2 separate regions of the Homo sapiens genome follow, and region 2 is linked to region 1. Evidence: fine-mapped expression QTL. A gene starts in region 1. The other region holds a variant in brackets. All regions are shown on one strand. Distances are between the middles of the regions. Region 1 holds the start of EHBP1L1 (EH domain binding protein 1 like 1). Region 2 has its middle 4.7 kb from the start of ENEMAL.

Evidence for each region.
Region 2: its variant is fine-mapped to the expression of EHBP1L1 in whole blood (INTERVAL, PIP above 0.99).

The regions. Positions count from the first base shown.
Region 1 is chr11:65,573,056-65,578,421 of GRCh38, reverse strand. It overlaps EHBP1L1 (EH domain binding protein 1 like 1), which reads right to left and starts at 2,369. Exons shown (of 19, transcript NM_001099409.3): 1 at 2,016-2,369. The coding sequence starts at 2,119. FAM89B (family with sequence similarity 89 member B) reads right to left here. Exons shown (of 2, transcript NM_001098785.2): 2 at 4,232-5,059. The coding sequence ends at 4,781. RefSeq lists silencers at 750-1,044, 2,095-2,194, 2,255-2,314, 2,325-2,744, 3,765-4,284 and an enhancer at 3,255-3,394.
Region 2 is chr11:65,470,112-65,475,477 of GRCh38, reverse strand. No RefSeq gene overlaps it. Among named protein-coding and RNA genes, the nearest start is that of ENEMAL, 4.7 kb to the left of the region's middle. RefSeq lists enhancers at 3,239-3,318, 3,639-4,184, a cis regulatory region at 2,970-3,529 and a silencer at 3,859-3,938. The variant T/C (reference allele first, on the strand shown) is at 2,750.

The sequences.
Region 1 (5,366 bases):
ATCTGGAGAAAGAGGGAATGGCAAGTCCAAGGGTCTGCGGCTGGAGGGTGACATCAGAGAGAGGGGCAGAGAGTTGGGGGTGAGGCCGGAGAAGCAGCAGAGGGTCAGCCTGTCATTAACCAACACCGCCATCCCTCGCCCACCATGTCCAGCCCTTTGCTGGGCGCAGGGGTCCCAAGGAGGATCAGCTTTCGGCAAGATGATGACAGTGGAGCCTGGAGGGCAATCAGAAAAGACTTCCAGGGGGTGACATCTAAGCTGAACAGCATATGCCAGGTCAGACATGGAGGAGAGGCAGAGGCAAAGCCAGAGGACAGAGATGGCTGCGCAGGGCCCATTCCCAGGCACTGAGTGGACTCATGGCTGGGCCTGGGGGCAGAGGGCCCCTTGGGGTTAGATGTTCAACTGCTGCCCAGGAGGGGTGATGCTTGAGGGGACGATCCGGCCCAGGGCAGCACGCGAACTGGCCTTGCCTGTACCCAGCCCCATGCCTGCACCCTCTCGTGATGCTGGGGTTTGCCCAGCTCACTGTTCGTCTGAGGCCAAGCCAGGATAAGTGCCTCTCTGTTAACCCTGAGGATGCTGAGGCCCACAGAGGTTTGGAGCCAAACAAGTTTACACGGTTGAGCCTAGAGCCCTCCAACCCAGAGCCAAGTTCCCTTCCCCAAGCCCAAATTGCCAGCGATGGCAGAGCAAGGGTAACTAAGGGGCCTTCCCAGAAAGGGGAAGCGGACAGGGGGTGCCTAGGGAGGGCAGGGCTTGGCTGGGCAGCCTGACTCAGGCTGGGCACGCCCTCCTGGGAAGCTGCAACCTGGGCAGGGGCAGCTTCCCGGCCTGGGCTCCAGGCTAAGCAGCCCAGGAGGCCCTACCCACAGCCGCCTGTGACTCAGCTGCGTTGACACTGCCGGCACCCTCAGCCTGCTGTGCCCAGTGTTTCCCTGGCCTCCCGCAGGATGCTGGAGCAGGAGCCAGAGGCCAGAGTTCAAGTGCCAGCCCCCAAGCTCTCCCAGGCTCTGCTGAAAGATGTGAATGGCCCTCTAGCAGGCCCAGTGTGGGCAAGGCCAAGGATATGGCAGCTGCCCAAGGGACCCCAGCCTCCTGCTTACTCCCCTCCCCCTGGACCCCATGGTCCCTTCCTGCCCCAGCCCTTCCCCTGGGGAGCCTAAATTTAGCCCCGCCTGGCGGGTGAGGCCCCCACAGCTGTGCCCTAATCCAGCCAAGGGAAGCTGACACCAGCAAGCACGTATATTTAGGGTGTGACGCAGGGGCCTGGGCAGCTATGGGTGGCGGCATGTGAACGAGATGCCCCTGAACCTGTTGGTAGTCCAGGCTGGGGCCTGCACCCTCTGGTGAATCACCCCTCACCCTGCCACCTTGCCCTCCGCAACCCTCTCCTCCCGGACCCACAACCTCCTAGGTCCTCAGGCCCCTTTAAGCTGCTCCCCGCCTCCCTCCTCAATCCTCCCAGCACTCAGTTTCCCCTTTTAAGGACATTGTGGAGATGTTTCCAGCCTCCCAGCACTCTGGCTGAAGAGGCGGGAGTTGGAGGGGTTCTTCTGGCTCAACAAGATGGCAGGGGAGGAGGGGGCAACATCTCTGTTCTTAGCTGGACTAAGTAAGGTCAGGGAGGCTCCTGCCCCAGCCCTAGCCACCTGCAGACCTCAAAACTTGATCCCTTTTCCAATGCCACCCTGAACCACCTTTCTGGCACAAGACATGCGGCCTCCCTCCCCCAGCCCTGACCGCAGCTGAGGAAGGAGTGGACACAGGCAGAACCTCAGGCCTGAAAGTCCTGACCCCCGCGCAGGGAAGGCTGCCCACGCCCCCAACTCCAGGGGTCCCACAAATTGCAAGGGCACTTCTGAATCTCCGAGCCTGGGAACGGAACCAGGGCCCAAGCTGGGGTGGGGGCCCATTTGGTCATTGGGCTGGGGGGGCAGAGTCCTCTCAGGCTCAAAGGGCCGGATGAGGTCCCAGCAAGTTCGGGGGAGCCCCCCCGCCTCCCTCCCACTCACCATTTCTTGGTGCACTCCAACACTAGCTCGTGGTAACAGGCCACGAACTGGAACTTGGCCGCCCGCTTGCCCACGCGCTGCAGGCGCTTCCACACCGAGGTCATGGCCCCCGCCACCCCGCCGCCCACTTCTCAGGCCCGGGGCTCCCGCTGGCCCGCCACCGCTGGCCCGGCCCGGGTCCCCATGGCCTGTCCGCGCCGCCCGCCCCGTCCGTGCGGAGGTGTCCCAGGCTCCGACCCGGGACCGCGCTCTCCGCTGCCGCCGCTGGGGCCCGCAGGGTGGTCTGGCTGAGTCTGCGGGGTCGCCTGGGGCGCGTCGGGTGGCGAGCGCGGAGCTGGGAGCGCGCCGTTTCCTGGAGCCGCACCCCCGTCGGAAGGCGGGCGGGGCTCCGGCGCGGGGCGGGGGCCGGGGCAGGAGCGCGGGGGCGGGGCGACCCGGCTTCCGGGGCCTCGCGCCGCGACCCGGGAGCGGGAGCGGGGGCGGGGGAGGGGGGCGTGGAAGGGGTGTCGCCCGACCGCAGTGCCCGCTCGGTGCGCGCAGAGGCTGCGTGGAGAGAGGGCAACCAGCAACTTGGTGCCACCCTAGAGAGCGCTGCCCGGGCCGCCTTCCTTCCTGCCCGCAGCCCTGGGAGGTACGTACTACTGGCCCCCTTTCAACGGCTGGGAAAACTGAGACCCAGAAAGGGGAAGGGACTTGCTCAGAGTCATACTGTGAATGTGGACGAGGACCAGCTCTCAACTCCAAGGTGCAGCCACCCACGTCTTAACCAGAGCAGGAAGGCGTCAGTAACCTCGGTGGCCCAACCTCAGAACCTGACTCTGCTGTCAAGGGGGAAGATAATCCCAAACCCCGACAAGTAGCTGGAGAATCATAACTGACCTCCAACCAAGTGTGACTTTGGGCAAAGCGCTAACACTCTGAGCCTCAGTTTCAACGTCTATTAAATGGGGATAATTGTAGTTCCGCCTTTTAGGGAATCCCTGAGAGGATGAACCTCAGAAGGCATTTAGCAGAAAGCCTGGCTGATTTTGCCATGCCTCCTTATTAAATGGGATGCGCTATAATGGATGGGGAAAACGTGTCATTTTTGTGTATGTTTACTCTCCCTCCCCAGGAAAGCCTGCCTGGAGCGTTAGCAGCTGTGAACCCCTAGATTAGAGCCCTTATCGCCTACCCACCCGCCCTGCATGGTAATGAGCCTCTGCAGGTGTCAGCTGCCCTGGGGCAATAGGTCAGTTTGTTCCTTCCCGCTGCTCTGCAAGGTGTGTAAATGGACAGGAGCCCGGTGCGTGACTGCTACTTGGTTTAACGGGATGTCTGAGTGCCAGGACTGCCATCTGGGCTGCATCTCCAGGAGGCAAATGGCTGCAGCAGGGCGCGGGGATGTGCTGTTCGTCCGCACACCTCGGTGTGCGGCTTCACCTCTTTTCAGGAGGTTGTGAGGTGTCGTGTGCGCGTGTAGGGGGCTGAGTACCCACTGTCTCCGAACGTGCTGGCTTCTTCCGGTGGGCTTGACAACTGGGTTTGGTTCTCAGTCCCAGCGGTGTGGGTCCCCGGTTTCCTAAGAAACCTTCCACAGATAACTGTAAAGACCGCTAGTGCTGTGGGGAGAGCCGGCGGTCTTCACAGACTGAGCGGGGAATACGGGTCCCTGGAACCCCAATCAAACTTCACCGCCGCGGAGTCTCATGCTTGGCCTCCGGGAAGGCCCGAGGTGCCGCGACTTCACTCCCCTCGGCCTCTGCCACCCCTCCCTCCCACCCGCGGGGCGTGAGGTCCCAGGCCGTTCCCGGAGGCGCCTCCCCCGCCCCCGCCGGGGCCCCTTGCTCCGGCGACTCCGGCCACCCATTTCCTGCGCCGCCTCAACCCCGCCCCGCGCGGGGTGGAAAGTTTCCCTCCTCAAGGTGGGCGGCTCCTTCTCCTTCCTTCCCGGCAGGCAGGGAAAGCCCGAAGCGAACTGGGAGGAGGGAGCGGGGGACTCGGAGGTCGCGGGCGAGAGAGGGGAAGTGACTCGACCGCAGTCACCCGGCGGCTGAGCCAGGCTCGGCCAGCAGGCAGCGCCCCCAGCCCCGCCCCGGCGGGACGGCAGGGCCTTCACTCGGCGCGGGGCGGGGGGGGAGGGGGTCTCGGGCGCCACCTGCTGGCAGAGCGCGGGGCCGCACCTGCCACAAACACCGCGGTCTTCCCGCCCCAGAGCCAGCCAGGCAGAGCACAACGACGCTGAGTGTATTTATTTATCTACGCGCCCTGGAGACCGGCCCCTAAATTTAAATATCCAGCACGGGGCCTTGGCCCTCCTGGCCGTGGGTGGTTATTGGGACGGGTCCTGGAGCCCTTCCAGGGCAGAGGAACCCAGAGCCCGGAGGTGGGATGCCCCTGAGCCAGCAGCTGCCGATAGCAACAAAAGGTGAGGAGGAGATGGGAGCCAGGCACTCATCCCAATCCCAGAGACGCCAAGCGGAAGGGAAGATGCTTCGGGCCCCACCGCAAGGCTGAGGGTTGGCCAAGCTGGGGGTGCACACATGTGGAAGAACTGGAGGCCCAGTGCCATGAGCAGAGGCTGTACCCTAGATGCCCGCCCCAGTGCCAGCCAACCCAAGACAGGAGAAAGAGTTTGGCAGTTTCGCCTCTGAGGAATACATGCCTGGCCCTCCTGTGAGGTGAGGCGGTAGGGGGGAAGGCGCAGGCTCCGAAGTCTGAGGGCTTGCCGGAGGGGGAGTTTCTGAGCCTTTTGCATGGGTGCATGCCCCCTGCCCCCCAGCCCTTCAGAGGCTGATGTGGAAGGCATCCTGCAGCCACTGGTCACGGGCATTGTGCGTCTGGGGCACAGTAAGGGGTGGCGGGTCAGGAGGCAGGCTGGCATCGGGAGGCTCCTCGTCGTCAGACAGGCCCGCATCCGGTGGGTAGGAGCTGTCCGAATGGAGGGAGGATGACAGGTCCTGGCAGAAGCTCAGGTCTTGGCACAGGTGTTTGTAGTCCTGGATTGACTCGTACAGGCCCCACAGCTGGCACAACAAGGACATGTCCAACTGCCGCAGCCCCACCTGCAGACAACTGAGGGTGGGCTGGAGTTGGGGTCCAGGCCACCCCAGCCCAGCCCCGCCCCCTGGAATAGTGGGCCCCAGCCCATCTTCCCCGCACCTTCCTAAACGAAGTTTTTGTGGACATCAGGCACCACCTGCAAGCTATGCAACTTTAGTCATGACCCTCACCCAAAAAATGGGGTTATCCATTTAGCCGGATGAAATGAAGTAACGTCAGCAAAACATTTGAAAATATATGGTAACTACTGCCATAATTGGTAACTATCACTAATTATTGTTACCATAACCCTTGCAACCCAACTGGTGC
Region 2 (5,366 bases), 100 kb after region 1:
TTCACCATTGATGAGGCTGGGCTCTGATGAGTAGATTGATAAGATATAGCTAGCTTCTGTCAGGTAGAAAAGATGACCCAAGATAATGGGCTTATTACCCTGCAGCGCAGCAGGTACTTTTGGATGTAACTCAGCAATCTTATTCCAGCATTGCTTTTTCAGTGCCTCTGAGTATTTCAGTCTCTCCAGTTCCCTTTGAACTAGTGTTTCCACCATTATAGTTTCTTAACACCTGAAGTAACCTTTGGTACATACATTAAAGACAGTCATGTTTATAACTTTGGAAATTATATCCTGTGACACATTTGGAGACTGTCTCACCAAGATGTCCAATTGGTTTTGGCTGCCAGAGCCAATTACACTTTGTTGCACGTGACATTTGCCTCATAGGTTCACCTGCCTCAGGCTTCCTGGCTCCATCCTGTGACTTATTATTTTTTTAATAATACCCAAGTACAGCTGGGTGTGGTTGCTCACACCTGCAATCCTAGCACTTTGGGAGGCTGAGGGGGGGTGGATCACCTGAGGTCAGGAGTTCAAGACCAGCCCGGCCAACACAGTGAAACCCTGTCTCCACTAAAAATACAAAAATTAGCCAGGTGTGGTGGTGGGCGCCTGTAATTCCAGCTACTTGGGAGGCTGAGGAAGGAGAATCGCTTGAACCCAGGAGGCAGAGATCTTGCAGTGAGCCGAGATCACACCACTGCACTCTCGCCTGAGTGACAGAGGCAGACTCCGTCTCAAAAACAAACAAACAAATAATACCCAAGTACATGGGTATTTTCTTTTAAAATTCAAACAGTAAAGTTAAAGTTGGTTGGACAATCACCTCCCATCCTAGGCCTGTTGTAAAGTTGACTACTGGCCAGTCACGGTGGCTCACACCTGTAATCCCAGCACTTTGGGAGGCCGAGGTGGGCAGATCACTTGAGGTCAGGAGTTTGAGACTAGCCTGGCCAACATGGCAAAACCCTGTCTCTACTAAAAATACAATAATTAGCCAGGTGTGGTGGCATGCACCTGTGGTCCCAGCTAATGGGGAGGCTGAGGTGGGAGGATTGCTTGAGCTCGGGAGGCAGAGGTTGCACTGAGCAGAGATGCCCCATTCCACTCCACCCCAGGTGACAGAACCAGACCCTGTCTCACAAAAACAAAAAACAAAACAAAAAAAATGGTAGTATATGGGACCACTGTCACATATGTGGTCCATCATTGATGGACATGTCATTATTCAGTACATGACTATGTATGTATATATACACATACAAACATTTATAATGTGCTTGTGAATGTGTATATATATTCATATCACACACATGTAGATATATCCTAATATATGTATAAATAGTATATACATAATTGAAATACATCATTTTAATGGTTCAAGAACAGCCTAGGCAGCATAGGAAGACTCCATCTTGCCAAGACATTTAAAAAAAATTGGCCGGGCGCGGTGGCTCACACCTGTAATCCCAGCACTTTGGGAGGCCGAGGCAGGCAGATTGCCTGAGGTCAGAAGTTCAAGACCAGCCTGGCCAACATGGTGAAACCCCATCTCTACTAAAAATACAAAAATTAGCCAGGCGTGGTGGCAGGCGCCTGTAATCCCAGCTACTCGGGAAGCTGAGGCAGGAGAATCACTTGAACCTGGGAGACGGAGGTTGCAATGAGTGGAGATCACGCCATTGCACTCCAGCCTGGGCGACAGAGTGAGACTCCATCTCAAAAAATAAAAATAAAAATTAGCTGGGCATGGTGACGTGGGCCTGTAGTCCTAGCTACTCAGGAGCATGAGGCAGGAGGATCCCTTGAACACAGGAGTTTCAGGTTACAGTGAGCTACGATTATGCCACTACCCCACCCCCCCAGCCTGGGCAACAGAATGAAACTTTCTTTAAAAATTAAAAATTAAAAAACTAAAAAGGGAGAACTATTTTGGGACATGAGTCCTACCTACCTCACTCTTTTTATTGTTTTGGTGTTTATTTTCTTTAAAAAAGAAAAAAACAACAACAAAAACAGGGTCTCGCTGTCTCTCCCAGGCTGGAATGCAGTGACACCATCCTGGCTCACTGAAGCCTCAACCTCCTGAGCTCAAGCAATCCTTCTGCCTCAGCCTCCCAAGTAACTGAGACCACAGGCACGAACCACCATGCCTGGCTAATTTTTAAATATTTTGTGTAGAGATGGGGTCTTGCTATGTGACTCAGGGGGACCTCACTCTTTTTGTTTTTTGGTTTTTTGGTTTTTGTTTTTTGAAACAGTCTTGCTTTGTCACCATGCTGGAGTGCAGTGATGCAATCTCGGCTCACTGCAACCTCCGCCTCCTGGGTTCAAGCAATTCCCCTGCCTCAGCCTCCTAAGTAGCTGGGACTACAGGTGTGCACCACCACACCCGGCTAATTTTTTGTATTTTAGAAGAGATGGGATTTCACCATGTTGGCCAGGATGGTCTCGAACTGCTGACCTTGTGATCCACCCGCCTCGGCCTCCCCAAGTGCTGGGATTACAGGTGTGAGCCACTGTGCCCAGCCACTTTGTAACTGCTAACATGGCAACACAAACTATAAAATACCTATGAATAAATTAAAGGAATGTGCAAGACTTTGTGTAGAAATTTATAATTTTTTTTTTTTTTGAGACAGAGTTTCGCTCTTGTTGCCTAAGCTGGAGTGCAATGGCATGATCTCAACTCACTCCAACCTCCGCCTCCCAGATTCAGGCGATTCTCCTGCTTCAGCCTCCCGAG[T/C]AGCTGGGATTACAGGCGCCTGCTACCATGCCCGGCTAATTTTTTGTATTTTTAGTAGAGATGGAGTTTCACTATGTTGGCCAGGTTGGTCTCAAACTCCTGACCTCAGGTGATCCGCCTGCCTCGGCCTCCCAAAGTGCTGGGATTACAGGCGTGAGCCACCGTGCCCAGCCAATTTGTTGTTTTTAAATAACCTTGTTTACAACTTTGTAATATTGATAAATTTTATAAACAATGAGATGTATGAGGCAAAAAGTGAAAGCACACACACACACACACACACACACACACACACACACACACGGACTCTGCCTGAAGCAACAGCACTGTGTATTTTTCCAGAGCTTTTCTCTATCTTTATCTTTATGAGCATATTTCTGGAACTTGCGTTTGGGGGTTGAAGTGCTTCCTCACAGGGAGTTAAGCACACCTATAAATAGCTGTGACGCATCACGGACTGTGAAAAACACTGCAGCTGAGTCACCCGGTGTGTCGGGAACCTGCGTCAGGGAGAGTCATGAGCATGGGGTGGCTTCAGAGATGGAGTGGGGCCTTAATTAGGCCCGGAAGGATGAGCTGGTGGATAAGTTGGACAGGACATTCCAGGCAGGCACTTGGTCTAGAGGTGGGCTGATCATTTCTAAATGGCAGAACCCTGACAAACGTGAGACTGAGAGTCCACAGAGGGGCACGTGGGGCTGAGCTGAGAGGCCCCCAGGGCCAGCATCCTGGCCCATGCCTTATGGAAGGCCAGACTAGAAGCCCTGGGCCAGCCCCAGGAAATAGGAAGTTTCCAGGCCGTGGACCTCCTGTGCCCCTCAGGGTGGGGGCCATGGAAGAGCTCCTCTTTGTTGCAGGGAGGGGAAGTCTGTACCCCAAAAAGGTCTTCCCATAATCCTGGAGCTGGGAGTGTGCTCGATGCACCAATGGCAAATGGTGTGCAGCAAACGCGCTCCGTTCCTGGCACTCTTACCACTGTCAAGAGAGGGACCCCAGAACTCAGGAGGCAGCCACCAGCAATCAGCAGGAGCTGGCAGGGGAGGCAGACGGGCCTCCGTCTCTCTCCCATTTCTTAAATTGGCAGATGAATGATCTGCAGGGAATGGTCTGTCCTGAGTCGCAAGTCCCAGACCTTGGGAGTCCTTCCAGGGGTGCACACTGCCCCCTAAGGAGCTGGTGCACGAGGTGCAAGCTGGGGCCCTGTGGGGAGGGCTCCAGAGTGAGGTAGGACCTTCATCCCTTCAGCCTCTCCAAATACAGACTGGCAACAGAGAGTTCCTGGCAATGGTAGGCAGAGGCCCTGAGACAGCCAGCCCTGGCTCCAGGTCCGGCAGTGAGGAGGTGAAAGCAGGTCTGGAATTAAGATTTCCTGCCCGTCAGTCAGGTCCGGTCTGCCATGGGGCTTTTTCTTTTCCCTTCAAGAACCCAAAGCCAGCCAGGTACGGTGGCTCATGCCTGTAATCCAGCACTTTGGGAGGCTGAGGTGGGTGGATCACTTGGGGTCAGGAATTTGAGACCAGCCTGGCCAACATGGTGAAACCCTGTCTCTACTAAAAATACAAAAATTAGCCAAGTATGGTGGCACACACTTGTAATCCCAACTTCTCGGGAGGCTGAGGCAGGAGAATCGCTTGAACTCAGGAGGCAGAGATTGCAGTGAGCTGAGATCGAGCCAGTGCAGTCCAGCCTGGGCAACAGAGTGAGACTCCGTCTTAAAAAAAAAAAAAACAAAAAGCAAAAAACACAAAAGAACCAAGTGATCTGCAGGAACTGAAGAGGGAGGGAAGGGCAATCAGATTCTCTGCCCAGCTCGGCCCTAACTCAAAGGTGAGGACAGGCATGACCTGGCCTTATTTCCCATGCTCTGTAACTGGAGGGCTTGTAGCCCACAGGCCGGTGTGTGGCTAACAGGGCCCTTCTTTTTTCCTGCAGTTTGCTCTGTCTCCTGTTGCGTGTGTGCCTCATGTTTGCATGGTGTCTCTGCTTTTAGTTCTTTTCTGTTCTCCTGTTGAGCCCTGCCGAACTCTTCCTGTGTTCCTGGATCCTTCTGGCCCTGTATCTTATTGCGAGACAGTCACCCCCGGGCAGGAGTGGCCTGAGTTGGGCATTTTCAATCAGAGGGACTCTCCACATCAGCCTGTGGTAGGGCCCAGGAACATGTGCTCTTCCACTGAGGCTGCTGCCTGGTCACAGGAGCTGGACCTCTGCAGCCTGTGGACATCTCTCGGGTGTCTGTGTCCTTGGCTCAGGAGGTGTCAAGCAAAATGTCAGCTTATTTGCCAGGCACAGTGGCTCACACCTTTAATCTCAGCACTTTGGGAAGCAGAGGTGGGAGGATCGATCGTTTGAGTCCAGGAGTTAAGAGACCAGCCTAGGCAACATAGGGAGACCCCATCTCTAAGAAATATATATATATATATATATACACATATTTTTGAGACGGAGTTTCACTCTTGTTGCTCAGGCTGGAGCGCAATGGTGCAATCTCGGCTCGCTGCAACCTCCGCCTCCCGGGTTCAAGCGATTCTCCTGCCTCAGCCTCCCGAGTAGCTGGGATTACAGGCGCGCACCACTGCACCACCACACCTGGCTAATTTTTTGTGTTTTTAGTAGAGAC